Linked DNA regions of Homo sapiens. The protein of the gene in region 3 purifies or fractionates together with the protein of the main gene of each other region. This does not show direct contact. Each region holds a gene or a part of one and is shown on either strand. Other genes may lie near its edges. The genes, in order: ASF1A, CABIN1, UBN1 and SMARCA4.

Region 1 (5,546 bases), on a different chromosome or scaffold from region 3:
AAATAAATGCATGCATACTTCTTCAGACCTCTGGAATGTTTTCTCAGCCCAAATAATACCCTTAATGCCTCCATCTTAGTGGCATAAGTCATTGGTTCATGTTTATATTCTTAGGACACAGCTATTTACTATGAGCAAAAGGGTGGAAAATAGTTCTTCAGATACAGTATTGGCAAATGACGCTAGACCGGGTGGAAAAAAAACTTATGTGCTACAGTTTCTTACGTTTCTAATGTTTGAAGTCTAAATCTATTTTCAGTCATTAAAAAAATTCTTAGAGTGATAAAATTTAAGATAACAAAAGGTAATGGTTCGCATGTCCCAAGCTTAAGTGAAAATTGGTTGTCCATTTACAACTTGATACAAAAACCTAACCCTTTGATGTCACTACAAATAGATTGTTATAATTAGTCAGAATAAAAACTCAGCAGTAAATGGCTTTATTTGGTGATTTGGCTGTATATGCTTTATTTCTAATAAGCACATATGTTGTTCCTATTATATTAACCACTGAGCTCTTTGTTGGAAAGTAATGCTTTTATTTTCATTTTAATATTTTAACATTTTTCTTTTAATTGCAATTAGACAAATGAGATTTTCTTTATATAGTTTTAACAGTCAGAAGTATTTTACTTTTAAAATCTATGAACTAGTTAATGGACAATATTTTAATAATCTGGTATATTAAATTCAAAGTTTAACATCTGGCAAAACTTTGCTTCACAAATTCACTTTTTTAGAATGATAGGAAATATATACAACTCAGAATCCATGTTTAGACAAATGCCCTTTTCCTTTCCTCAACATAAAAGCTTTAAAAAGTGCAGTATAAAAGTTTTAGATATGAAGGCACTGCATAACCTGCATCATATGGCTGTCTTGCTTAGCTGCAAGAATAATGAAAATATTCTACCTCAATTTTATGGAGCATAAGAAAATTTTTTGAGGAAGGACTTAACTCTCAAAGAAAAAGAAACCTTTTACCCCATTTAGTTAATGAATTCCTTTCCAAGATTGCTTTTCAAAGATTTGTTGGAAAAGCTATCTAGAGTATGTCAACCACAAATATGCCTGATCTCATTCTGCATGAGTGTCAGAGGAAATGGGGAAGAGTACTACAGGTGTGAAAATATATATATTTCCAAAATAGTAACGTATCTATTATAATAAAGCTAAATATACCTTTCTAAATCCATGGTTTTTATATAAATACTGCCAATAACATGATCTATTAAAAGAATTTTTAAAGGTCATGGTATTTTTAGAAATCAAATGAACCAATTTGAGCCATTGTAATCCCCTATTCTTAAACACAGGGAGTTTGTATTTTCTCCCGATATTGTATTTGGTCTTGAATTCACTGGACAATAATGATGTATGATTCAAGAAATGCTCTGATATTCTAAACTCTGTTATAAGAACAAAAACCATAGCCAGGGGACCTTATTAACAATTAGCCATATTTGTTCTTCTCTTACCAAACAAACCAAATGCTGTCCAACATCTCATGAACTATAATAGTAGCCATAAGAGGCTTCACGGTGGCTTGGAAAATTGGATCCTAAAGTTCTTGGTAGCATATAGTTGATTTCAAATCCTCTTTTTAAGGACATGCCAAAAAAGAATGGAAATCTGCCCCTTAAATTAAAATGATACCATATGTCTTCACAGGAAGAAACATTTTAGTTGAAGTAAACTTTGTTCTTTCAAAGGCCAGTAAAATAGTGGTCCAAAGACTGTCTGGGAGGCCAAGACATCTTTACAACCTGGTCTAATGATTCCTGTTTCTTTATAAGTGCTTTCATTACATATAAAGGAGAAGAAAATAATATATATGCTTTAATCAGATTAGTTTCAGAACAAATAAAATAACACATTAGAGAAAAAAATTACTTAAAAATAGTTGTATTTATATTCCACAATTTGTTCAAATACTGGTTTTCTTATAAACTTTCTACAGGATGTTTTTAAACAAATTCTTCACATTGTGTTTTGACTATGTACTTACGGAATTTCAGGGAAATAGTTCTGTGTATTTTTAATAGCTTAATTTGTACTAAAGGGATGGTAGGTGGTCACATGCAGTCCATGTGGGATTCTAACATGACATTTAGTGAGTTTTCTGATGTGGACCATCCCTTTGATGCTGAAGGTAATGCATCTGTTGAAAGAAGTGACTGTAGATTTGGATTACTGCTCTCTGCATCTTCCAGTTTTTCTGTGTTATCTTCCCAATTAATGTGGAATCTTGTGACCCTGGGATTAGATGCCAAAATATTCCTTTGAAGCTAGAGGAAAAAGGAAACATACAAATGGTAAACACTAAGAAAGTTAAATCACCATATACAAATAGAAGCTTAATAAAATGGTTCATGTTAGTACTCCTAAAGGGCTAAGTTCATATACAAAGGTATAATTCAAGTTAAGTACCTTAAATATAACTAATAAGATGTAACGACTAGGGCTGTAGCAAAGAAGTTATTTTAGATTAACAGAAACAAGATACGGAGAATCTGAGGGGATTCATCTGGCTTTTTAACTATTTAACTCCTATACTTCTGTTTTCTAAAAGAAAGAATCTCCTCATTTTTGAAAATGAATGCTTCAGAAGATGCTTTATTTAACAAGCTACTATGTTGTTTAGATTGGTATGTTTTCAAAGGAAAATGAAAAATTGTCAAATACAACTTATTATTAATGGTTTCCTACACCTTTTAAAGATGGCTCATTCTTAGAAACAGTCCTGTTTCTTTTGTGCTATATAAGGTGCTTCAGGGATAACAAATTGGATCAATGGAAGGTACAACAAGGGTGAAAAATAGTCCGGCCTTATTATCAGAAAGAACATGAGAACATTCTATTCTATTGTCATGTAATTTTTCTTGCATGGTTCAACTTCATTTACTCTGCACTCTCACAAAATCACCAGTTACCAAACTGTTATAGTTCCCAGTGAAAAATCAGAAAATACTAAGTATCTTTAAGAATGCTGAATCCTAGATTTCAGCTTCTCACTCAGAATTTAAGCTGTTTTCAGTACCAGAAATATTTAAGACTGTTAGTTTAACTTCTAAGAATAGCAGATAAAGCGTATAGGTGTTTTGAGATAACCGTATTCATAGGAAAAACAAACATAAAACTTTCATAATTTTGGGAAGAGTTACACACAAAAATATCATCATTGAATAATTAGTACAACAAAAATGCATTTGTTTGTCCTAAAGGTTGAAATGAACAGAATCATGATGGGAATAATCAATATGGGAAATGCTATAAAGAAAGCCATAAACAAAGGCCTGTCTTACAAGAAGTACTTTCTCTGGGCGTGGTGGCTCACACCTGTAATCCCAGCACTTTGGGAGGTCAAGGTAGGCAGATCACTTGAGGTCAGGAGTTGGAGACTACCCTGGCCAACATGGTGAAACTCCACCTCTACTAAAAATACAAAAATTATCTGGGCGTGTTGGTATACACCTGTAGTCCCAGCTACTTGGGAGGCTGAGACAGGAGAATCGCTTGAACCTAGGAGGCAGAGGTTGCAGTGAGCCGAGATCATGCCACTGCGCTCCAGCCTGAGCAACAGAGCAGGAAACCATCTCAGAAAAAAAAGAGGTACTTTCATTTTTCTAAACCAGAAATGCTCAAGGTGTCTGCCTACATTAATTACTAATGACTCATCTGAAGGTAGGGTTTGAAGTCATCCATGGTAATGGAACAATAATTAGTTTGCCCAGTTGGCATAAGGACCTCATATTTATTTTATCTCAAAGCCATTTTAATAGTATACTATGAAATTGCAATAGCAACTGCTTTAAAAATTGCATAGTAAAAGTAGTTAAAAAGGAATAGTAAGAACATTACCTTAGAAAAGTCTGGTTTTACTGGTGGATTTTCCCTTAATTCTGTCTCAGTATATTCATTATTTACATAATAGCCAACTCTAATAAATTCTTGTCCTCGATAGGTACAAGTAATTAGCACAACAGTTACGCCTACTGCATCTGCATCTGGAATGAGTCCTGGATTAGGTGCATCAGCCTAGAATAAATTAAAAAGAAAAGAAACACACACACACAAAAGGCTGTTAGTGGCAGGCAAGACTGGAGTTTCAGTTACCTAGAACCATCAGTTGAGGATGCAACAAGAAAAACTTGGAAATCATACTGGGAAGGAAAATGCTCATTTCTGACTGACTTATAATAAGCTGGAAAAGACAGTTCATGTTTTGCCACAATATATGTAAGGACCCTTGATACTTGAAAGCATGACTACACTTGTAAAAGGAAGAAATTCTGGCTACACTGCATGGTGGTTCATGAAAGGATTATACACTATTCATTATAAAACCTTTATAGTCAGCAATTGATTTTAACCTTTTCAGTCATAATTTTCAGACCTAAATTAGTAAGTATTAAATGATCTCCTCATAGACTGTTGGCCACAAATGTTTATTATACCAGTTTCCCTCTTCAACCCAGGATACTTATATTCTCATACCCACTCAACCACCCCCACAGGTATTCTAATAGTAAATTAGTATAAAACTGAAAATGAGGTTGGGTGTGGTTGCTTACACTTGTAATCCCAGCACTTTGGGAGGCCAAGGTGGGTGGATCATGAGGTCAAGAGATTGAGACCATCCTGGCCAACATGATGAAACCCCATCTCTATTAAAAACACAAAAATTAGCTGGGCATGGTGGCGGGTGCCTGTAGTCCCAGCTACTTGGGAGGCTGAGGCAGGAGAATCACTTGAACCGAGGAGGTGGAAGTTGCAGTGAGCTGAGATCGCACTACTGCACTCCAGCCTGGCGACAGAGTGAGACTCCGTCTCAAACAAAACAAAACAAAACTGAAAATGAGATGGAAATAGCTACATAGCAGATTTTCAAAAAATATTAATAATCCTCTATTATGAATAGTTACTTTGCTAGACTCTACAATATAGTATGCTCTTTAAACCACACATAATGTGGAAACCAGTGAAGGTAAGGATTGCTTTAGGCAGATGTCAAAGACCTTGTTTTAAATCAAGCTATTGTAAGGTGAACCTTGAGGAATGCAGAAAGTAAACTGAGTTAGACTAGACTAAGAGCATGAGCGAAGGGCAGGGCCCCATCCGTGGTAGGGTGCAGGTAGTAATGAGACGACCGGATGGAAGGAGCCAGACTGGGGAACACAGGCAGTGATGGCTGAGGCATCTGAGGCAGCCATTCTGGGTGGTAAATGGATCAAGTCCCAGCAAATTAGCTTACCTGTTGCCAGGGCACCAAGGAATATTCCTGGGCCTAGATGAGCACTTTAGCCAATGCCTTAGCTTGTGAAAATTGAAGACTGTTGTTTACTGTATGCCTAACACAGGTAGATGATACAAAAAGGCATAAAATCGCTACCTAGTGTCCTAGGCTAAAAACCTCAGTCAGCTTCACTCCCTTATCTCCTACATCTAGTCAGTCTCAACATTTTTTTCATTTCTGGAGGCTGAATTCATGTCATCTCCTATCTGGAATATTGCTTAGAATTTTCTAACTGATCTCCCCAGCTCTA
Region 2 (8,008 bases), on a different chromosome or scaffold from region 3:
GGAGTATGAGCTTGTGGGCCTCCAGCAAGAGCTCAGTACCAAGGGCAGCCGCCACACGGGCCTGCCACACTGCCAGCCGGGGCAGTCTTGGAAGAGGTCGCAGCCAACGGCAGTGGGCTGGGAAGACAGGGCAGCTGGGGTTGGGGCTCAGCCCCATGCCCAGAGTCCCCCCAGAGGGCAGGTGGGTAGGAAAGCTTCACCTGCATCACCTCCGTCAGCACCAAGTCTTCCAGGGAGATCTGCTCCATTGCCAGGAAGGGCCTGGCCACCAGCACCCCCCAATCCAGGTGCTGCAGGGCTGGCATCAGCCTCCCCAACAGCCGCTCCAGCTGTGCAGCATCTGCAGGCTGTCCGGAGAAGTGGGGCAGGAGAGACTGGGCTGGGAGGAGAGGAGCAACTTAACCCAGACTCTTGGAAGCCTCTTGGGCCTCCTCTCCATCCCTTCCCGGCTGCCACTCATTAGTGATGTCCTCTGGGGCTCTGTGTTCAGAAGGTTTCTAAGGATTCATTCAGGCTTAGGGGAAGGAGTACTGTGATAGATTAGTTATGTCTGCTGAGGACAGTGGAAGTGAAGCTAATATGTAATATGTACCAACTGGTGCCTTCCATCTCTGGGGGTCCAGGCCCCTGCCCCAGCCTGCATGACAGGGCCTAGGAAGCTCACCTTGCACAGGTAGACATTGGTGGCAGGCAGCTGGATGGTGACATGCTTCCACGCCAAGTACTCATCCACGCAGGTGCGGGCTTGCAGCTCAGGTGGGTACCAGTGTCCCCGTATCTGGTACTTTCGACTCAGGTATAAAACGATGACCATGCTGTGGGCAGGGGGTGTCAGAGATCTTTTCTCCAGCCTGTCAGGGCCAGGTGGCTTCATTGCTCATACTCAGGGTGATTTGACCAGGTTTTCTCCCCACCTTCACCTTCAGGGGAGGACCTCCCCTATACTGCAACTCCCTCCAGGCAGTATCTCCCCACGACCAAACCACTCTGTTTCTCCATTTCCAACTCTGATCCTCCCTGGGCCCATGTTTCCACCTCCCCTCCCAGTTACCATACCATCCTGCCCTCTGTGCCCAGGCCCCACTCCCTGGCATCAGGGTCCCCACTCAGAGTGCCTGCCGTGTGGGCCCTGCCCAAAAGGTCTCCAAGTTCCCTTCCTAGTGCCCCAGAACACTAGGTGCCCATTTTCTATCCTCAGGTAAGCCCTGGGAGGTGGATACATTATTCCTCCCACTCCGTTTTACAGAGGAGAAACCTGGCACACAAAGTTCTGTGATTTCCCCAAGGGCATGGATTGAGGAAGTGGTGAGCTGGGATTGAATGTGGAGTCTCCCCTGGGTCTGCCCAGCTCCTAGGACTCTGAAAGGATGAGCTGGGGACATTTGGGGAGGAGCCAGCCTCAAGCCTGGGCCTTGCCCGCTGGCTTCAGGTTGTCCAGGTTTATCCGGGTGACCTACGTCCTTTCCCCACCTGGGCAGCTCCAGCTGGCTCAGACTCTAGCCAGGTTCCAGCCTCCAGCTTTAGCCCAAAGGTGCCCCTGGGTCCAGCCTCTGCATCGGAGCTACACAGGCTGAAATGAGGAAGGGGCCTCAGTGATTTGGAAAGATCTCCAAGCCAAGGAAAGATCTCCCCTCTCGCCTCTGCCTCCCCCTACAACTCTGAGCCCCAGAACCCAGGCAGATCCTGGCTCTGACCCTGGGTGGGCACCAGGTCACCATTACCTCTTTGCTAGTAGGAAGTCGCCATCTCTGAGGGCAGGCACCTTCCCCAGGGGGTTCACCTTCAGGAACTCAGGCTTCAGGTGCTCCCTTGGTGGGCAGAAAGGAGAGAAGGCTCAGTGTAGGGCCTGGTCCTTGGCACCCACTCCATGGGGCCCAGCCCAGCCACCTGGCTCACCCCAAGCCAACTCCACCATCCACAGCTCAAAAGGGATGTCATTCTGTCTTGCAAAAGTGGATAGTGTGTCAGGTCCAGGAAGAGCTCAAGCCCCATTGCTGCTCCTCTCACCTGCCCTCCCCAGAATTCTGGACCTCCAGGAGTTGCTCAGCCCTTCTCCACTAGTTCTGAGCTGTTTCCTCTCCATAGTCTGCTGTAGTGGGCCAGAGCACAGGGCAGATTTGTCTTCAGGGACTTTCTCTGGGCATTCCTGGGCAGAGAACTTCATCTTCTCTGTTAACTCTTGCTGATAATTCTCTGTAGCTAGGCACCTTGTAAAACCCATGTCCCAGAATGCCAAACCTGGAAATGCAATGTCAGCGCCGAAACTGCATTGAAACTGAATGAATGAGGTCCCCACCCTCTTATCTAAATATCCTATCAGTCTGTTGAATGTCAAAGTATGTAGGGGTGGTGTGGGGGAGCCTATAGGGAGTCTCCATTTCTGTAGCTTTCCACATGTTCCATGCAGAATTTTCCTCTAATGACCCTTGGACACCGTGGTGGTCACTGTTTCCCTGCATAAACCTTTGATGATCCTTATCTTTAGCGTACCAGTGAAACACCAAATTCAGATTTTCAGTCTGTGCAGTCTATGTAGTTAATAAAATCAATTTCTAATGGAATATGCCTGTGCCTGGTGTGTTTGTACCTAACCACTGCTAAGGACTTTCATTGATAGCTAGACCTTGGAGTTCCTTCCCCTGGACCCCTGACCCAAGTATTTTGCACTCATTCCTCTGCCAGTGTGTTTCATGGTGTCCTGCTTCCCAGAGTGCCTCAGGGAATGCTTGCATTGGATATGAATGAATCGTTGCGGTCACCATGGATGGGATTCAGGCCTAACTCTCACCAAGACCATAAGGCCACAGTCTTTGATATAGATTCCCCATGTTAAATCTGCCATCCTCAGTGTAGTGAGAGTGATATTGAGAGAGAAAAGTTAGGTAATTAAGGTGGGTCCTTGGTAAAACTCCTTTAAACAGAGGAACAGCCTGAAAAATCAGGCTTCAGGCACAGATAAGGAAACTTGCACAAACCTCTGGCTCACTCAGATAAAGGAACAATGCCCAACACAGAAACACCTTTGATCTTTGTGCCTAAGGCATGCCCACAGCTACTTTGATAAGGGAACAAGACCCAGCATAGAAATGCCTTTGTCCTTTGTATAACCAGTGGGCTTCCAGGAAATAGTCTCTTCTCCTTTTGTGGACATGTACACGGTGGGCTACAGTGGGTTCCAGTGGGCACTTTCCTTTCTTGGACGTGCTTTAGAATGTGAGCCTCTGATTGGTCCTGGGCCAGGCTATCACTTCAGCTCCTGATTGGTCCCTCAAGGTCCAGGGGCCAAGCTGAGTAGTGCTTTCTCCAAGACCAGTCAGTACATTCCTTCCTTTCCCAGTCCATAAAACCCCCTGACCCAGCCTCATAATGGGCAACCTGCTTGGGCCCCCCGCCAGCTGCAATGAGCTTTCTTCATTTGCTTATTAAACTTTTGCTTCAACCTTACCCTTTGTGTCCACACTCCCTAATTTTCTTGGTCGTGAGACAAAGAATTCTGGGTGATACCCCACAATGAGAGACTGGTACATTGTGGTGCACGGGCAAGACTGCAACAATATGTTTTCTGCTTGCTTGTTTGGACTGGCCTCTTCCTAACTCTCCAGAGTGCTCTCTCCCCACTGTGGCCCTGAGCTTTGCCTCACGGTAACACTGTGCTGCATGACACTCCAGCATGATCTGCATGTTTCTCACCTCCGGACCTTCCCCACACAACTTTCTTGCTGCTTGGACCACCCTTCCCACCTATTTTCAACTGTTTCTCTCCAGCGCATCTTTCATGATAAGGCTTGAGTGGAAGCTGTATCCGAGGCTGAAGGTTATCCATGCAGCTTTGAAACCATCTGTTTATGCTTCTGTTTACCCCCCAAATACTGTTTACCCCAATACTCAAAGTCAAGGTTGGTGACTCAACAATTTTCAGAACTTCTAGCTTATCAGTATAGCTTTATTGTACTGAACTGAGTTTTTCACCATGCTGTTACTGTCTTTGAGGTTAAAAAGCCCCCAACATTCACTCCTATTTGAATCATCTGTGCAAGACTCAAGCAGCTATGAATTCAACCACAGTGTAAAGTTCTTCCCTACAATGCTTTATTGTTATTCTAGCTCCCAAGAGAGTACCATCTTTCAGCCCAAGACCCTTGACAGAACCCCTTCAACTCTGTCGCCTTTTTTCATCTCTGGAATTCTGACACCACCCATGACCCCTCTTCTTGTTCATTTACTAGGTTTTGTTCCTTTTTTTCCTTTTGTTTCAATATCCTATTGTATCTGTTCCTTTTGGGCTTCACATCCTTTTTGGAAAGAGAGGCACAGGTAATATAATGAATGAGGATGCTCCTCCTCCCTGGTTCCCTCTAAGTCAAGTTTCTCCAACGCGCTGGTCTGCTTGGCTTTGAATGCGGCTCAACACAAATTCATAAACTTTCTTACAACATTTTGAGATTTTTTGGTGATTTTTATTTTTATTATTTATTTATTTATTAACTTATCAGCTATCCTTAGTGTTAGTGTATTTTATGTGTGGCCCAAAACAATTCTTCCAACGTGGCCCAGGGAAACCAAAAGATTGGACACCCCGCTCTAAGTGTTCCCCAAGTTTCCACTGTTTTCAGAGCACATGTCCCAGGTAATAACACACAGCCCATCATTTAGTGACTGCTCAGGGTGCAAGCTGTGGAGAAGAGAGTCCGACTACGAGCTGGTGCTCTAAGCCTCCAGCACGCTAGGACTGACGACGGGGATCCGGAAACAACAAGCTCCACTCCCGCAACACACACACACACACACACACACACACACACACACACACACACACGCACACGCACACGCGCACGCGCGCACACACGCGCACACACGCGCGCACGCGCGCGCGCGCCGCCCAAGGGTAGCCGTCTGCAGGGCCCCAGCTAAGCAGCCCGCGGAGAGCGAGCGGCGCGTGCGCCCCCGCTGATTGGCTGGCACAACCGGCACCGGAGCCAATGGGAGCACGCCTTGTTGTCAGGCGCGCAGCCGGACGGCGCGGTGGTCGGGACAGACTGGCCGTTGCTGTGGAGACGCCTGGTGAGTTCCTGGAAGGCTGGTTTGAAGGCGGTGCCGGGGTGGGGGTGAGGCTCAGCAGAGCCCGGGGCACAGGCCGGAGGGGCTGCAGGCGCGAGGCTGGGTTACGTGAGGAAGCTGGGGGTTTCGCGGGCAGCTTTAGAGCCCCAGTCAGGGAAACCGAGGCCGGGCTTCCTGGCTGCCTCGCGAGCCTCTTCATGGCTCTCGCCGCCGCCCTGAGGTGCCTAGAATGGGTTCCGGCCTCCGGGGAGGTTCCCAGTAACCGCAGGAGCCACCATTGATTTGGCGTCTGCTGGGTGCAAAGCCCAGCGCGCTAACCCTTTACTCGCGACCTTTCGCTTCACCTTCACAGCAGCCCTGCGAGGTGAGTGTTGTTATTGGTGCCATTTACAGGGGTGGAAACTGAGGCCGCGGGTAGGTGAAATGATTTGCTCCAAGTCACCCAGTGGGTGAGCGCGACTCCAGACTGAAAATTTTGACCGTTCTGCTTCACTGCCTCCCCGCAAGAGGCGGGCCCTGGCCAGATGGAACTCACCTGGCATTCCCAAGGTATCTGCACAAGTGGCTTTGGGAGTCACTTAACTCTTCAGGACCTGGGTTATTACAGGTTATAAGTGTGGGACCGTCGGATTCCATGTGGCTAAGATTCTTTCTATGTGATTATTGTGGTTAGAAATAGAATATGCTTAGAACAGTCTCGTTCAGCGGTCGGCAAACTTTTGTTGTAAATATATCAGTGTTTACATTGTTATATTGTAAGTATAATGAGTATAATAGTATTCATAATAGTAGTTTAGGCTTGGGGGGTCCATACTCTGTCTACTTAACTGTAGCGATGTAGTGTGGATACAGCCAAAGACAATACATAACAGACTAGCTGCGTCGCAATAAAATTTTAATTATAGGGACCGAAGTTTTAATTTTATATATTGTTAATATAATTTTCACGTGTCATGATTTTTTTTCCCAAATATGAAAAAATGTAAAAACCATTCTTTGCTCGTGGGCTGTACAAAAAGGGTGGGCTGGTTAGCTTGCAGAACCCTCATCTAGTACAAAGCCTCATACATGAGGGGAAACAGACTGAGAGACTGACATCTATGTCAAGTCAGTCACACAGCCAGGGCACTGCCACCACTGAGCTTAAGACATAGGCTTCCCACCTTCCAGGCCAGGAAACATCCCCAGTTATCACTCTGGATCAGGGTGCTGAGGTCTGAAGGTGTGCTACTCTTTATCGTGTTCTGAGGCCATGGAAACTATATTCTAAGGGGTTTGGAAACTTATTAGCTTAGACTAATAAGCCTGGTGAATGTGCTGCTATCTGAGGAAATGCAGCTGCTGGGCTGGGAGTCAGAAATGAATAGATATTTTTCTTTTTCATGATTATTCAATAGCTTTTGTGTGTGTGTGTGTGACGGAGCCTTGGTCTGTCGCCCAGGCTGGAGTGCAGTGGCATGATCTCGGCTCACTGCAATCTCCGCCTCCCGGGTTCAAGCAGTTCTCCTGTCTCGGCCTCCCGAGTAGCTGGGACTACAGACACCCGCCACCATGCTTGGCTAATTTTTGTATTTTTAGTAGAGACGGGGTTTCACCGTATTGGTCAGGCTGCTCTCAAACTCCTGACCTCAGGTGATCCACCCGCCTCGGCCTCTGAAAGTGTTGGGATTACAGGCGTCAGACACCGCGCCCGGCCTCAATAGCTTTTTTTTTTTTAAAAGCTCCTTTTAGTGAGTTTCTTGGATTTATGGTGAACAATACATAAATGGTTACCATCCTCACATTGCTTACAGATGATAAATATATAATCAAAATGGTTATTTCTTTTTAAGCTTTTTTTTTTTTTTTTTTGAGATGGAGTCTCGCCTGTGGCCCAGGCTGGAGTGCAGTGGTGCGATCTCGCCTCACTGCAAGCTCCGCCGCCTGGGTTCACGCCATTCTCCTGCCTCAGCCTCCCTAGTAGCTGGGACTACAGGCGCCTCTCACCATACCCTGCTAGTTTTTTGTATTTTTTAGTAGAGACGGAGTTTCACCGTGTTAGCCAGGATGGTCTTGATCTCCTGACCTCATGATCCGCCCGCCTCGGCCTCCAAAAGTGCTGGGATTATAGGCGTGAGCCACCATGCCCGGCCTCTTTTTAAGCTTTTTAAACTAATTTTAGATTTAGAGAAAAATTGCAACAATACAAAACGCTCTGTTATGTCCTTCACCCTGCTTTCCCTAATGTTAACATCTTACATAATCATACAATTATCAAGAACAGAAATCTAGTGTTGGTACAGTATTATTAACTACATTACAGATGTGATATGAATGTTACCATTTTTTAAATTAAGGTTGTGTTTTCATTCCAGGACCCTATCCAAGATCCCATGTTGCATTTAGTTATTTCTCCTTGGTCCATAACACTTCCTTAGTCTTTTCTTGTTTTCCTTGGCTTTGATGCTTTTAAAGAGTAGTGATCAGTTATTTTGTCTAACGTCTCTCAATTTAAAGGTTTGTCCAGTGTTTTCTAATGATTGGGGTGAGATTATGCATTGTTGGCCAGAACACAAAGACACATTATCTTTGTGTCTTTCTCAGTGCATCACATGGAGTCCAAGATATTGGAATGTCTTATTACTGGTGATATTTACCTTGATCTATTGGTTTACTTGGTGTCTACCAGGTTTCTACACCATAAAATTACTATCCCTTTCTAATTAATAAGTCTCTTGGGAGAGATACATTGAGAGGACACAAATTCTCGTTCTCCACAAATTTGCTCCCTGACTTTAGCATCCATCTGCAGATCTTTGTGGTGTTTGCCTAAAGGTAATTATTTCTCTCTTTCCTTCTACATTATTAAGTCAAGTTCTACTGAAAGGAGAACTACCCTCTCTCTCTTTTATTTATTTATTTGATTATTTATGTGTCAGTGTAGGCCATGGATATGTATTATATTCTATGA
Region 3 (7,026 bases):
CTGGGAAAGGGTCTTCTGGATCTTCCCTGGAGGAAGGGAAGTTGCCTCCAGGGTTTTGTTTTTGTCATTTTTTGTCCCACTTCAGTTGATGTTTGGCCTCCCATCTCAATATGCACTTTCCTTTTTTTTTTTTTTTTTTTTTTTTTTTTGAGATGGAGTCTCGCTCTGTTGCCTGGGCTGGAGTGCAGTGGTATGATCTCAGCTCACTGCAAGCTCCACCTCCCAGGTTCACGCCGTTCTCCTGCCTCAACCTCCCGAGTAGCTGGGACTACAGGTGCCTGCCACCATGCCCGGCTAATTTTTTGTATTTTTAGTAGAAATGGGGTTTCACCGTGTTAGCCAGGATGGTCTCAATCTCCTGACCTTGTGATCTGCCCACCTTGGCCTCCCTAAGTGCTGGGATTACAGGCGTGAGCCACCACACCCGGCCACACTTCCTGTTTTAACATACAGGCTGCTATGAGCATTTGAGAGATGGGTTCATCTTGGGTCTTTCCTGATGTTCCTGAAGAAGTGTCATTTGCAGGTAGCAGGGCTGACTCCTTATTGGAACTAAGTGCCAGGCTTCCATCTCAGAGGCTACCTTGTACGAAGTCACTTCCTGCGAATGAAGTATTTGTGTCATACATGGGACAGAGAAAGTTAGCTGGAGTGATTTTCTTGATTGGACTCGAATCATCTGTTGTGCGGATAGATCTTGGAACCTTTGAAATTGCTGTCCTCTCTACGTAGGCTGGACTCATACGAAGAACGTTTTTGTTGAGTTTCTCTGGACAAAGACATGCTGGGTCACTCCACATTTTATTCCTGGAATGGAGGGACTAGGCAATAAGGAAAGTGCTGTGCCCTTTAGGGAAGCATCACCATGAGAGGTTTGAGGCAGAGCCATACATTTTCTTGGTAAAGGCCAGACTCAGCCTTTGGGCAGCCAGTGTGTCCCATTGAGATCCTCTCACCAGGAATTTGGCTCCCCAATCCATTGACCTTTTTTTTTGTGTGTGTGGGGGGTGGGTGGGCATGGTGGGGGGGCGGGGACAAAGTCTCACTCTGTTGCCCAGACTGGAGTGCAATGGCACGATCTCGGCTCACTGCAACCTCCGCCTCCCCGGTTTGAGCGAATCTCCTGCCTCAGCCTCCCGAGTAGCTGGGATTACAGGCGTGCGCCACCACGCCTGGCTAATTTTAGTATTTTTAGTAGAGACGGGGTTTCACCATGTTGGCCAGGCTGGTCTCGAACTCCTGACCTCAGGTGATCCACCTGCCTTGGCCTCCAAAAGTGCTGGGATTACAGGCGTGAGCCACTGCGCCTGGCCAGTTGACATTTAATGAGGGATAGCTACTGAGGACCAGGGACACTAGCAAAGTTCTGGAAGCAGAGTCCCAGCTTTCTGGGGCATGTACAGATGCCTGGTGTTCTGTGTCTTTCAGAACTCTGTTTAAGGAGAGCAGACGAGGCCATGGGCACCTGACTTCAATCCTGTGAGTGTCTTGGTATTTTCACATCTCGGGACAAGTGTTGTTTTTGGTCTCCTCTGGATATTCTCTAAACTTTTCTGTGCTCATTCCTTTGAACAGGGCCAAGAAGAAAGTTATGGCCCCTTCTAAAATCAAGGTGAAGGTGAGTCAGTTTGCTCGGGTCACATGTCAGCTATGCCCATCTCCCTACAACTATGCTCTGGAAACAGTCAAGTGACTGTGGAAGCTCATTGATCTTTGCTCGTCTGGGGACAGCTGCTCAGGATGACATTCTTGAAGTCATAACAGGACAGAGACCCAAGCCACTTAACCCCCCTCTAGCCTTGGTTCTACAAACAGTACCCAGCTGGCCCAGTTCCTGGGGTTCATGTGGGATTAAGTGGGATCTTCTTGGCAGCCCTCTGAGGAGTCAGTAGTCCCTGAAGGTGTGAACGTGTTACACTGTGATCTTTGTATGGAAGAAATACACTCTAGCCAAGTGCAGTTTAGCTTGGAGCCACAGCAGAAAGAAAAGGCGACTTTACTGAGCTACCAGGCAGAAATGGAGGGCAATATAGTGGCTGGAGAATAGACACTGTGAAAATTACCTTAGATGTTGCAGAAACCTCTCAATGTAGTAAAAATTGCTGTTTATCAACATTTTTCCCAGTTCTTAGTGTGGTGCCCTTAGCCATCCCTAAGCAGACCGTGAGAATGAGATGTGCAAATCATTTACTCCTAAGTATCTGTTGAGCTCCCACAATGTCCCAGACACACTGTATTAAGCACCAGGGATGCAGGAGTGAAGGATTAGACCCCATTCCTGTTCCCATGAAAAGCTCACTCTTCTTTGAACCCAGTCTGAGGAGATGGGTGCTGGGAAAAATCAAGAAGGGAAAAATAGCTGCTTTAAGGCAATTCTCATGCCATGCCTTGGTCTGATTGCAGCTAGGAGTGCGCTGAGACAGTGGGAATGCCAGTAGGCAGAGTATCTCTTCACGAGAGTCTTAACGCTTTTCAAAACAGAAGAAAGTTTCTCCTGGCGGCTTGTTTGTACTTAGCAACGAAGCATGCCGGGGTAAACCCAGCCCTGGCCAACCAGATACTCACCAGGGGTGATGAAGTCATGGCATCTAAAGTCAAGGCGGGCACAGCTCCTGCTCTGTCCCACCACTTGTCTTGTAATTATACAGGAAGGCCCAGTTTTTTTGACTCGAGTTCACATGTTTGTATCCTCACAACAGGCCAATGTTGGCATCTTTGGACCTTTCTAAACATCAACATTTCTGTTTTCCTTTAGGAATCGTCTACGAAGCCTGATAAAAAGGTTTCTGTCCCATCAGGACAGATTGGTGGCCCCATTGCTTTGCCCTCAGATCACCAAACAGGAGGCCTGAGTATTGGGGCCTCGAGCAGGGAGCTCCCATCCCAGGCATCGGGCGGCCTTGCTAACCCTCCTCCTGTCAACCTGGAGGACTCATTGGATGAAGACTTGATCCGCAATCCAGCCTCCTCGGTGGAAGCCGTGTCCAAGGAATTGGCTGCATTGAATAGCAGAGCAGCTGGGAACTCTGAATTCACACTGCCTGCACCCTCAAAAGCACCTGCAGAAAAAGTTGGAGGCGTTTTATGTACAGAAGAAAAAAGGAACTTTGCGAAGCCTAGTCCTTCTGCTCCACCACCAGCTAGCTCTCTGCAGTCACCCCTCAATTTTCTGGCAGAACAGGCTCTGGCACTGGGGCAGTCCTCTCAGGAGAAAAAACCAGAGAGTTCTGGCTACAAAGAGCTGTCCTGCCAGGCTCCCCTCAATAAGGGCCTGCCAGAAGTACATCAGTCCAAAGCTAAGCACCACAGCTTGCCACGGACGTCTCACGGGCCCCAAGTGGCAGTTCCTGTGCCTGGCCCCCAGGTCAAAGTCTTTCATGCCGGCACTCAGCAGCAGAAAAACTTCACGCCCCCATCTCCATTTGCCAATAAGCTCCAAGGCCCAAAGGCTTCTCCCACACAGTGTCATCGTTCCCTCCTGCAGTTAGTGAAGACAGCGGCCAAAGGCCAGGGCTTCCATCCCTCTGCACCAGCCACCTCAGGAGGCCTGTCAGCCTCCAGCAGCAGCTCTCACAAGACCCCAGCCTCGTCCTCTTCTGCCCTGAGCCATCCAGCAAAGCCACATTCAGTCAGCTCTGCAGGCTCATCTTACAAGAATAATCCCTTTGCCAGCTCAATCTCCAAACATGGGGTTTCTTCTGGCAGCTCTTCCTCGGGAGGAACACCAGTCCAGAGTTCTGTTTCTGGGAGCCTGGTCCCTGGCATACAGCCTCCCTCCGTGGGACAGGCCACCAGCCGACCCGTCCCAAGTTCAGCAGGGAAAAAAATGCCTGTTTCCCAGAAGTTGACTCTGGTAGCCCCTCCAGGCGGTCCAAACGGAGATTCCAGTGGTGGGACCCAGGGAGTGGCAAAGTTGCTGACCTCGCCGTCCCTAAAGCCCTCTGCAGTTAGTAGTGTGACATCGTCTACCTCCTTGTCAGTGAGTATCTGTCATAGCAGCCTGCCCTGCCCCACTCACAGGGGCCTTGGGGATGAGGTTGCTTGCCTTGCCCCGGGTGGAGAGTGAGATCTAAAACCACAGGTCAGGTAGGAACAGTGGGCTCAGACGTAGGAAGGGAGACTGGGCTCCCTGTTCTCAGGTATTCACTTTTCTGGTGACAGGAAGCCCAGGATGGCCTAAAGCTTCTTCTGAGGAGGGCAGAGGGACCTAAAGGATGGCCAGCACCAAGCACCATGCCTCTTCGGAGGCTGTCTGTGTGGCACAGAATGAGCAACAGCCCTTGCCTTCCGTGACCCCTTGCCTCTCCATCTCTCTAAAGGGGGCTGGAAATGCTGTCTTCTATCAGTTGAGTCATGTGGAGGTGTTCATGGACCAGGAATAGCAGGACCTTCTAAGAGTGATTCTGTTGGTTTTTGAAGGACAGAGTCCAATAATTAATGCATCTCGCTTGTGTGTAATCACAGCAGGTTCGGGAAGAGGGAGTGAGCATTTTCTTTTCTTTTTTTCTTTTTTTTTTTTTTGAGACGAAGTCTTGCTCTTTCACCAAGGCTGGAGTGCAGTGGCGCTATCTCGGCTCAGCGCAAGCTCCACCTCCCGGGTTCACGCCATTCTCCTGCCTCAGCTTCTTGAGTAGCTGGGACTACAGGCGTCCGCCACCACGCCCAGCTAATTTTTTGTGTTTTTAGTAGAGATGGAGTTTCACCATGTTAGCCAGGATAGTCTCGATCTCCTGACCTCGTGATCTGCCCGCCTCGGCCTCCCAAAGTGCTGGGATTGCAGGTGTGAGCCACTGCACCCGGCCTCTTTTTCTAATATATAAATGAAGTGGTTGCAAAGACAAAACCATAGAAAGGTCTGTTGGAGGTCTCACCTCCTTTCCTGCACCCACCACCTCTGTAAGGTAACTAAGCTCTTTAGTTTCTGGTTTATTTTCCTCTTTTTAAACAAAAGATTAATAAATATAAATAAAGGTATATATGTATGTGTGTGTATGTATGTATATAAATATATATACACATATAAATATCCATGAACATTTATGGATATCTATATTACATTTTTCCCTTCACAAAGGAGGCTTTTTTTTTTTGAGACAGAGTCTGGCTCTGTCACCTAGGCTGGACTGCAGTAGCGCGATCACAGCTCACTGCAACCTCTGTAGGAGACATATTTAATATCCTGCTTTTAAAAAAATTATGTTCCCTGGAATCCATTCCATGTTGGTTCATAAAGACTGTCCTGGATCCTGTCTTTGGGGCTGCAGGGTCGGAGGGTGCCTCCCAGGGCCATCTGACATGGATGTGTATGTCCTCCTTTGTGGACACACAAGGAGGATCCTTTGTGTTGCCAGGTTTGGTGTGAGTGAGCCACGAACAGGACTGGAGTTCTTACCGCTTGCTGTGTTTCTTCCCTAGAAAGGAGCGAGTGGGACTGTGCTGCTGGCCGGCTCCTCTTTGATGGCTTCACCCTACAAATCCAGCAGCCCAAAGCTGTCTGGGGCCATGAGCTCGAACTCCTTGGGAATTATAACCCCTGTCCCTATTCCTGTCCATGTGCTCTCCTTCAGCGCTGACTCCTCTGCCAAAGCAGGGGTCTCCAAGGATGCCATCGTCACAGGCCCTGCCCCCGGGTCCTTCCACCATGGCCTTGGCCACAGTAAGTGCTTCTTTGCTGCCTCTGGTCACTCAGGAACCTCTAGATTGTGGCCAGGGGTCCTGCTGTTGTGTACTCTGGTTCCTGTGTTTGAGTCTGGTGTGTGACTGTGGGGAACATCTCCGGGAACTGTGCCAAGCCCCCACTGCCCCTTTGGGTGTGGTGCCCAGACTGGCCTGGCAGGTTATCGGGGGCTTTTGGCTGCTGGAGCTGCTTTCCTGTTCCTGTCTTCAATGTGTGTGTTTTGTTCTTTTCTCCCCTCCTGTTTTCTCTCAGGTCTTCTGGCTGGCTTGCACTCCAGCCCGCCCCATGCAGCGCCTCTCCCACACGCTGCGGTGCCCACCCATATCCCGCAGAGTCTGCCAGGTAATCACCCGACGGTCAGTGTGCCACGCGCACCGTGTGCCTTTGCCCTCTCCACCCCTAGGTGCTTTGCCGCTGCCAAGGGTCTTGGTGTCTTTGCCTTGACGCTGTTGTTGTTTTGGTTTGTCCTTTGAGGCTGTGCTTTGTCAGTACTCAGGGTGACACGCACTTCTACTCTTGGGGTTTCCTCTGGTCCCCACTTGGAGCTGCCGCCAGGTCAGCCTCAGCCTGTGTGATCACAGGGAAAGTTGCGGGGGGCAGGGTGGTGCGCTTTTGTGTGCGGTGGAGGAGTTCCTAACCCTCGGCTTGTTTTTTTCTCTTCAGTTTAAAAAAAAAAAAAAAGGGAAGGTAATGGTGCATCTTCTCCAAGGGCTAATTGGGTACAACAAGGTCTTGGAATGCAAGCTGCTCCACTGTCAGATGTGATTGCTTAACAGAAGGCTCTCTAAACTTTGTTTCCATTAAAGGGAAAATCCAGGTAGCAGCCAGAGGCCACAGTGCAAGACTTTGAGAGGAGCAGCTTTAAATCTGTCCAAGTGTGAAAACTCCATCAGAACAGATTTGTGGGAGCACAGCAGGCATGTGGTCGGTGCTCCCCTTAGCATCTTCTGAAATAGGGAACTTCTAAAAGCCTCAGGCTTGAGGCTGCTCTGGTAGCACCTGAGAACTGGGCTCAGGTGCCCCGGGTTGGTACCTTTGCATTGAGTGCGTCTGCCTCACCCTATCCCGAGTCTGCGATTCTTGGGTACGCCTCCTGGAATTCTGGCATGGGAAGTCTCATGGTGTCTCAGCTTTGACCTAGCATTGTTCCTACTGTAGACCCGCTTCAGACATGACCAGGGTGCTACTTGGATAAGGGGAGAGCCGCTCGTATGGAAGCCAGCCGAGGTAACCCTGGCGAACTGGTGCCAGGTGGAAGTAAGGACCCTCTGTGCTGCACGTCTCCCAAGTTACATCTGCCTCATGATGTGCTGTGGCTCCCTGGCACCATGGCGCATTATAGTAAACAC
Region 4 (7,026 bases), on a different chromosome or scaffold from region 3:
CTGGTGGTCCCGGCACGGCTGCGGTGGATGGGGACCCACACGGCAGCGAAAGGCACACACACGCACACGCACACGCACGCTCCGTGGGACCAGGGCCCTTGCTGGCCGTCTCAGCCGAGAAGCCGAGGATTGAATGGGCATGGAGACTGAACTACCCCTCTCACCTTTAGAGGTGGCTCCTCCAAGTCGGGGTTGACGCCCGCTGGCGGAGGGGCAGTGTGGGCGAAGCTGGCACTGCCGCTGCCCGTGCTGCAGTGTCTGCTCTGTGGATAAATAGAGGACTTCAGTCTCCAGGGCTGTCAATCCGGCGTCTTTCACCAGCAGTTTAGAAAAAAAAACCACTTCAAAGAAAAAGCAAGTACTCATCCTCTTTCCGTTCAGCCCACACTCCCTTTACTCCAAAGGGATGCAAAAAAAATAAGAGTGCAAAAAAGGTAAAAAAACAAAAATGAAAGCCGCTCACGCGTCCACCATTCACGCTGGGGAGGGGTCGGGGCCGGTGCTGGGCTCACCTCATCCTGCTCCTCGTGCTCCAGGATGGCCTGCAGGAAGGCGCGCCGCTCATGGCTGGAGGACTTCTGGTCGAACATGCCGGCCTGGATCACCTTCTGGTCCACGTTGAGCTTGTACTTGGCTGCAGCTAGGATCTTCTCCTCCACGCTGTTGACGGTGCAGAGGCGGAGCACACGCACCTCGTTCTGCTGCCCGATGCGGTGGGCTCGGTCCTGCGCTTGCAGGTCCTGGGGGAAGAGGTGCCAGTCAGTCCCAAAGGAGCCCAGGAGGTCATAAAAGGGAAGGTGGCCTCTGACACTAGCTGGAGAGGTGTGCTGTGCGTGCCACCCTCGGCCTGACAATTCTGCCCAGCCTGACCTGCCGCCGCATGAAAACAGAGCTGGTGGAGCCTGGGCCGCCATGTGTCCCTCGGGGGAAGGGGACTCTCATCACGTTCCTCCAGAAGTGCCACCTTCTACCTTATTGGGACCCCACAGATATTCGGGAAGAAAGCACCAACCCCCCAGGGGATTATATTCTCAAGCAGCTCCCGTGGCAGCGGCACAGCTCCCCACAGCGTGGACCTACACAGTCGAGCACCATTTACAACAGGGGGCCGAAGCTCGGCCGTGTTGTGGCAGTGCTTGGTTTGGCTGTGGGCCCTGCCACTCTCACAGTGCACACAGAACCGGAACCAGGTCTCACCTCTGTGAGCCTCAAAACTCCCTCAGCCTACATGGGGCCCAACCCGTGGCTACTGCATACCTCGAATGAGTGAATAAGCACCAGGAGTGTGGCCCAGTGACTGGTGCAGTTAGCTCCCAACAATGCAGGTGCCGTGGATGGGCTTTTTTTCTTTTTTTTTTTTTTTGAGACAAAGTCTCGCTCTGTCGCCCAGGCTGGAGTGCAGTGGTGCGATCTCAGCTCACTGCAACCTCTGCCTCCCGAAGTTCAAGCGATTTTTCTGCCTCAGCTTCCTGAGTAGCTGGGGCTACAGGCATGCACCACCATGCCTGGCTAATTTTTGTATTTTTAGTAGAGACAGGGTTTCGCCATGTTGGCCAGGCTGGTCTCGAACTCCTGACCTCAGTTGATCCACCCACCTCGGCCTCCCAAAATGTTGGGATTTCGGGTGTGAGCCACTGCGTCCAGCCTGGGTTGTTAGTTTTATCATCACCCCAGCACAGTACGAGGAGGCTAACACGAAATCCTGTCTCTGGGCCCAGGAGCTGCAGGACCAGGGTGAGTACCAGTGATGCTCTGAAACTTAAGACTGGCACCCATGGGGTGGCAGAGGCCACAGCTGGTGGGGACCAGGAGTGCCTTGTGTCTGCCGCTCAGCCCTCCTGCCCTGTCAGCACACTTCCTGGCAGGGCCAGCCCTCCCCAACGCGCCCCCAGCCCTGAGGTGCAGCTTCCGCCTGCTGCCGGCCTGCCAACGGGGACACACAACTCAACCACCTCCTAAGAAACTGGCTGGTCACCAGGGTCTGGGCAGAAGCTACACCCCAGCCTGATCGTAAAAGGGGCCACCAGTGACCACCACGGCATTCACCCATCAGACAAGCGACAATTTACACACTGAGAACGCTGCTGCCCTCACGCTGCAGGGAAGGGCAGGGTACATTCACACCCCAGCGTAGGAGTGAAACCACTTTGGCAGTAGCAACCAGAACACGAAGAGGACAATGTCTGGGGTGGAGCGACCCCATGTCTGAGGGCTGCGCAGACCTAGGGTGTTTGCACAAGCACTCTGAGAGAAAGAGGGACCCTGCTGGGTTGGTGACCAGGCTGATCAACAGAAAAGACGGATGCCTGCCAACCAGAGTTTGAGAGCAGACGTCCAGGGGTGGCCATCTGCCGGGACGCCTGGTGGCCGATTAGATGGCTGGGTAGCTTCCGATGTGCACTCGGCGGTTGACACCCACTGCTTGGTGGAAGAGGCACATGCTAGGCCACGCCGCATCTGTGTTAATCTCAGTACATACATGTGCGAAGGCAGATGGGCTGGCAGAGGCTCAGAAGAGAGCACGGTTGGAGAGGAAGGGAAAAGGGACTCCTGACTGTCACTGGTGTTTACATGTTAAAAACAATAAGAACTTATCAGTCTTATAATGAAACACAGAGAAAAGTTTAACTCATTTTCAAATTCTTGTAGCTATGTAACAGCATGACCTGGTATCCACCGATGCCGAGGCCCATGAGGGGTACATGGTTATGGAACAAGAGGAGGAAGTAAACGAAGTGGCATGGAGTTTACCCCCAATTGTGTCTGAACAAGCGCCAGTGTGTGTGCTCACAGGGCACACTGCAGGGGCCGCCCCACAGTGACGGCGCAGATTGATCAGGATACTTTCCACCTCCTCATGGGTGCCATTCCAAGATTTAAGAAAAACCAAACCGACGGATGGCTTATACACTGCTTTCCCAATCAGAGGGAAAGGCTGTTTGTATTTTGGGAAACAGGAGGACCCCGCCTCTTTTCTCCCTGATGACCTATGGAGATATGGGTGCAGCTCCTCCCGGCTCCTGGGGTCCAAGACAATGTGGAGGAGGCTGGAGGACCCTCAAGCCAGGGCCGTCTCCTCGAGGTTTTGCAGGCACCCCCTTCCTTCTCCTCGACCTGGGGCCCGGCCCGCTTTTACCTGGTGAGGATTCCAGTCGCTGTCAAAAATGATCACAGTGTCTGCCGACTGGAGGTTCAGGCCGAGCCCCCCAGCCCGGGTGCTGAGCAGGAAGATGAAGTACTCAGAGCCGGGCTCGTTGAAGGTTTTCAGCAGCATGCCCCGGTCCTCCGCCTTCGTGGTTCCTGACGGGCACAGAGGAGAACAGGGTCAGCGGGGTGACCTCAGGGGTAGAGTGGGGACACCAAGGAACACCTGCTTCTGAGAGCAGGAGCAGGATCAGCACCTGCCAGCATCCCCAGATCCCTGGCTCCGCACTCTCCACACGGGCCTGTGGGCCACTGGCGAATAACTGGATTTCCAGTGTTTCACCACAAAACGTCTCTCCACACATCCCAGAAATGAAAACAGGCCCCGCTGGGAGAACTAGAGGAGGTGGGCCTGGAGCACAGAGTCCAGCACCCAGCCCACAGCTAGGCCACAGCGTCCAGCGTCAGCACAGCCACCACCACCACAGCCCTGGATTCTCTCCTCTACTCTACCCTGTGCCATTCCATGGGGAGCGGAAGACACAGCGGCCAATGCCGGCAACACCGCCGCTCGCAACACAAGGGACCTGGGGGTGGGTGGACAGTGACTGTGGGTGCACCTGCCTTCAGCCCTGTCTCAAAAAGTTTTGTGGTTCACAAAGAGAATCTTCTACGGTAAAAGCATGGAGACCTTATAAAGGGGGCTCGTGTCCTTTCTGGCAGGATCAGTGTCCCCATGCCCCAGAAAACCCAAGTCAAGGAGCCAGAGCAGGTCTCCTGGGTGACAACCCACGATGCCCTCAGCGTTGTGGGCATTAAGGCAATGTCAACACTCCCTGCGCTGCTGGGAGTTCGGACAGAGGTGCCCCTGAACACTGAAGTCATTTTGGTGATGAAATAAAAACTGGCAGGCCGGGCGCGGTGACTCATGCCTGTAATCCCAACACTTTGGGAGGCTGAGGTGGGTGGATCGCCTGAGGACAGGAGTTCGAGACCAGCCTGGCCAACATGGTGAAACCCCGTCTCTACTAAAAATACAAGAAAATTAGCTGGGCGTAGTGGCGGGCGCCTGTAATCCCAGATACCAGGGAGGATGAGGCAGGAGAATCGCTTGAATCCAGGCGGCGGAGGTTGCAGTGAGCTGAGATCATGCCACTGCACTCCAGCCTGGGCAACAAGAGTGAAACTCCGTCTCAAAAAAAAGAAGAAATAAAAACTGGCCATTTCCTGCCACCAGCCTACACATGCCCAGGCACGGTGCAGAAGCCCACAGTAGCCTGGCCATCCACCTGCCGTCCCACCCTCTCTCAGGCACCAGATGTGCCCCTGCTACTCCAGCTCGGAGGAGGGGCTGAGGTGAGGGGCCACCCGGCTCCCAGATGCCAGCCCACCCATGGGAGATGCAGTCTCAGGAGACTTCACTGAGCTCCTACCCTTCCTCTACTCGCAATGGATTCTCTGGCCCTGTGGCCATGACCACATCACATGCAGAGGACACATCTGTAGTTCAACTGACCAAAGTCCTTGTCCTTATGGAGTAGGCAGAAGGGCACTGGGATGGGTGGGAACCAGGCTCTCTCCTGGGGGAGTCAGGGACACGACACAGACGGGATGGCCCTCAGGAAGCCTTGGCCCTCTCGAGGACGGGAGAAGCCGCTGGAGAGACCGTAGGAGAGGAAAGGGTGGGGGGTGGCCCGGCCATGAGGACCCTGAAGGATTTTGGTTTTCAGCCTCAAAGCTGAAAGTGGGAAGCCCCCAAGGAAGAAGGCAAGCCGGGGAGACCCCTGCAACAGACTCGTGTCTGTAGAGTGGTCCTGGACAGAACCCCGGGGAGGACCTGCAGTTTGGAGGGACACACAGGGCACACTCCGGGTGGCACCTGGGCAGGTTGGCCCAGCAAACACAGGTCCAAGTGATCAACGGGACAAGGGGTATGGAGGTCTGGGGTGTCCTGCTGTGAGACAGACCTTGCACAGGAGCTTCAACAAAGGCTCTGGGAGGTCGTGTAGGGAACAACAAACTGGCTGAGCCGTGTCTGTCTCAGCAGCTCATGCTCGTGTTTCTCGTAAGCCCAGTTCTAGTAACTCCCACGAAGAACTCACTCCAGGGCTCCCTGACCCACTGGGACTGACAGACATGTCTCACGTGCCCTGTCGGCATCTCACAGCCTCTCCTCCCTGAGCTCCCGTGTGCTGGGGCAGGCAGGCGCAGAAACACAGGCGGTGACCTTTCCCATCAGGGACCGCAGGGCAGGGGGTTGGGCTGAGAGCCTCTCTACGGCAGCTGCTGCTCCTGCCTGGCAGTGCTTGCTTCCCTCCCTCCGTGCTCACCACAGAGTCTGATTCCAGGTCCAGGCCTGACCTGTGGCAAGGTGGCAGTCACTGGGCTGCTACGAATGGCCCAGGGATGGGCATGCGGCTCACAGCAGCTAAATGAGAGCCAGCCTGGGACCTGCCTTTGTTGGGGACACTGAGCAGGTGGAAAGGAAGCCAAGATGGAAGAAGGCAGAGCAAAGAGCTGGAGAAAAGTCTCTCCAATATCACCTGCATGCCTGGATCCAGCTGTGCCTGAAGGATGTTTAACCTCCTGGGGTTAGAGCTATGTAAGCCTATTGGTGCTTTCTTTCCTGTGTCCACATGGTATGGAATTCTGTCACTTCCAGCTAAAAGTGCACAGGGCACCCCTTCCCCAGTGCGCCCAGCATTGTCGTGGAAAGACTGTCAGCCTAGGAGTCAGGACACCCGGCGTCCAATCCACGGCCTGTCCCAGTGCCGAGTGCCCAAGATGCTCAGCCTGTGGCTAGGCCCACTCTGGCCACTGGACCCAGAGCGCCTGGGCCTCACCCTGCCTCACAGGAGGGAATGCCAGTGAGGAGCTTCTGTGGCAGCCACAACAACAAAACCCTGTAAGAAACGCCTCACTGGCTCATACTCACCATCAAGCCTGAGGTATTTAAAGCCGCGATACGCAAAGTAATCTTCCATGATGGTCATGAGGGAGGTCATTTGGCAGAACAGCAGCACTTTGTGGTTGGTTGCTCGGAGTTTGGGAAGAATTCTATCAAGAAGCTCAAATTTACCCGAGGCTCGGTACAGGTCCAGCCTGGAGTGTGGAGGAGGCAGGAGAGAAGGCGCAGGATGTTAAACCTGGAACCCTGCAGGCAGGTAAGGCAGGAGGTGCATCGCCCGCCTCCAGGCCAGGCGCCGGGTTCAAGGGCACAGACATGCATCCTAAGCAGACGTCACCCACCCAAAGCTTCAGCAAAGCCATTTCCCCCAACTGAAATAAGCCCGGCCACCCTCGCTGGGGAGGCGTATCACCAGGGTGGCACATGTATTTCTCGTCAAACCCAGACACTCATGAAAATGAGAGGAGCTGTGAGTCACATGGCCGGCACAACACGGGGCTGGAACAGGGATGCTCCGGGAAGCCAGACCTTGTCCCCTTGCCCGATAAAGAAGCCCCAGGAGCAAATGCCACACTGGAGACACCCATGCTCTGCTAGACCCAGAAGGAAGGGCCACCTCGGCTTCTCATGTTCTCTCCAGCCAAACCCCAAGTGTTGTAGATGTGGACACTGAGGCTGGCAGGGGGACGACGTGATATGGCTGACCACATGTCCAAGCCAGGCCTCCCAGCCTTGAAGCCAGGTGTACAGGACCCTGTTCCACAACTCAGTATAAAAAAACACATCAAAAAGAATTTGTGATGTTTTCATTAGGCGCCTCTCTTCTTGCAAATGGCTTACTACCCCAGGGGAATTGAATGGAGGCTTTAGCTGGAAGAATGCTTTTAGCAAGGTTCTTTGCAATGGTGAAAATCTAGACACAGCATCCACATCCATTAGGGGCTTAAAGGAGTCTGGGCTGCCCCTTACAAAGG

The links.
Region 1: the proteins of UBN1 (region 3) and ASF1A purify together in Homo sapiens (affinity purification with mass spectrometry; 7 studies listed by BioGRID and IntAct, with this or other methods). This does not show direct contact.
Region 2: the proteins of UBN1 (region 3) and CABIN1 purify together in Homo sapiens (affinity purification with western blotting; 6 studies listed by BioGRID, with this or other methods). This does not show direct contact.
Region 4: the proteins of UBN1 (region 3) and SMARCA4 purify together in Homo sapiens (affinity purification with western blotting; 2 studies listed by BioGRID, with this or other methods). This does not show direct contact.

Annotation. Positions count from the first base shown.
Region 1 is NC_000006.12:118,904,144-118,909,689, reverse strand, and holds the end of ASF1A (histone chaperone ASF1A), read right to left. Parts: intron 4,039-5,546; coding exon 3,862-4,038; intron 2,289-3,861; coding exon 2,076-2,288; 3' UTR 519-2,075; downstream 1-518. UniProt on the Homo sapiens protein: Histone chaperone that facilitates histone deposition and histone exchange and removal during nucleosome assembly and disassembly.
Region 2 is NC_000022.11:24,006,307-24,014,314, forward strand, and holds the start of CABIN1 (calcineurin-binding protein cabin-1), read left to right. Parts: upstream 1-4,997; 5' UTR 4,998-5,061; intron 5,062-5,063; exon of another isoform or gene 5,064-5,422; intron 5,423-5,451; exon of another isoform or gene 5,452-5,607; intron 5,608-8,008. UniProt on the Homo sapiens protein: May be required for replication-independent chromatin assembly. May serve as a negative regulator of T-cell receptor (TCR) signaling via inhibition of calcineurin. Inhibition of activated calcineurin is dependent on both PKC and calcium signals.
Region 3 is NC_000016.10:4,871,456-4,878,481, forward strand, and holds part of UBN1 (ubinuclein-1), read left to right. Parts: intron 1-526; coding exon of another isoform or gene 527-530; exon of another isoform or gene 531-713; intron 714-732; coding exon of another isoform or gene 733-763; exon of another isoform or gene 764-823; intron 824-1,428; coding exon 1,429-1,479; intron 1,480-1,575; coding exon 1,576-1,618; intron 1,619-2,755; coding exon 2,756-3,979; intron 3,980-5,415; coding exon 5,416-5,656; intron 5,657-5,929; coding exon 5,930-6,019; coding exon of another isoform or gene 6,020-6,150; exon of another isoform or gene 6,151-6,397; intron 6,398-6,483; exon of another isoform or gene 6,484-6,594; intron 6,595-7,026. UniProt on the Homo sapiens protein: Acts as a novel regulator of senescence. Involved in the formation of senescence-associated heterochromatin foci (SAHF), which represses expression of proliferation-promoting genes. Binds to proliferation-promoting genes.
Region 4 is NC_000019.10:11,027,004-11,034,029, reverse strand, and holds part of SMARCA4 (SWI/SNF-related matrix-associated actin-dependent regulator of chromatin subfamily A member 4), read right to left. Parts: intron 6,247-7,026; coding exon 6,080-6,246; intron 3,301-6,079; coding exon 3,137-3,300; intron 741-3,136; coding exon 513-740; intron 264-512; coding exon 165-263; intron 1-164. UniProt on the Homo sapiens protein: ATPase involved in transcriptional activation and repression of select genes by chromatin remodeling (alteration of DNA-nucleosome topology).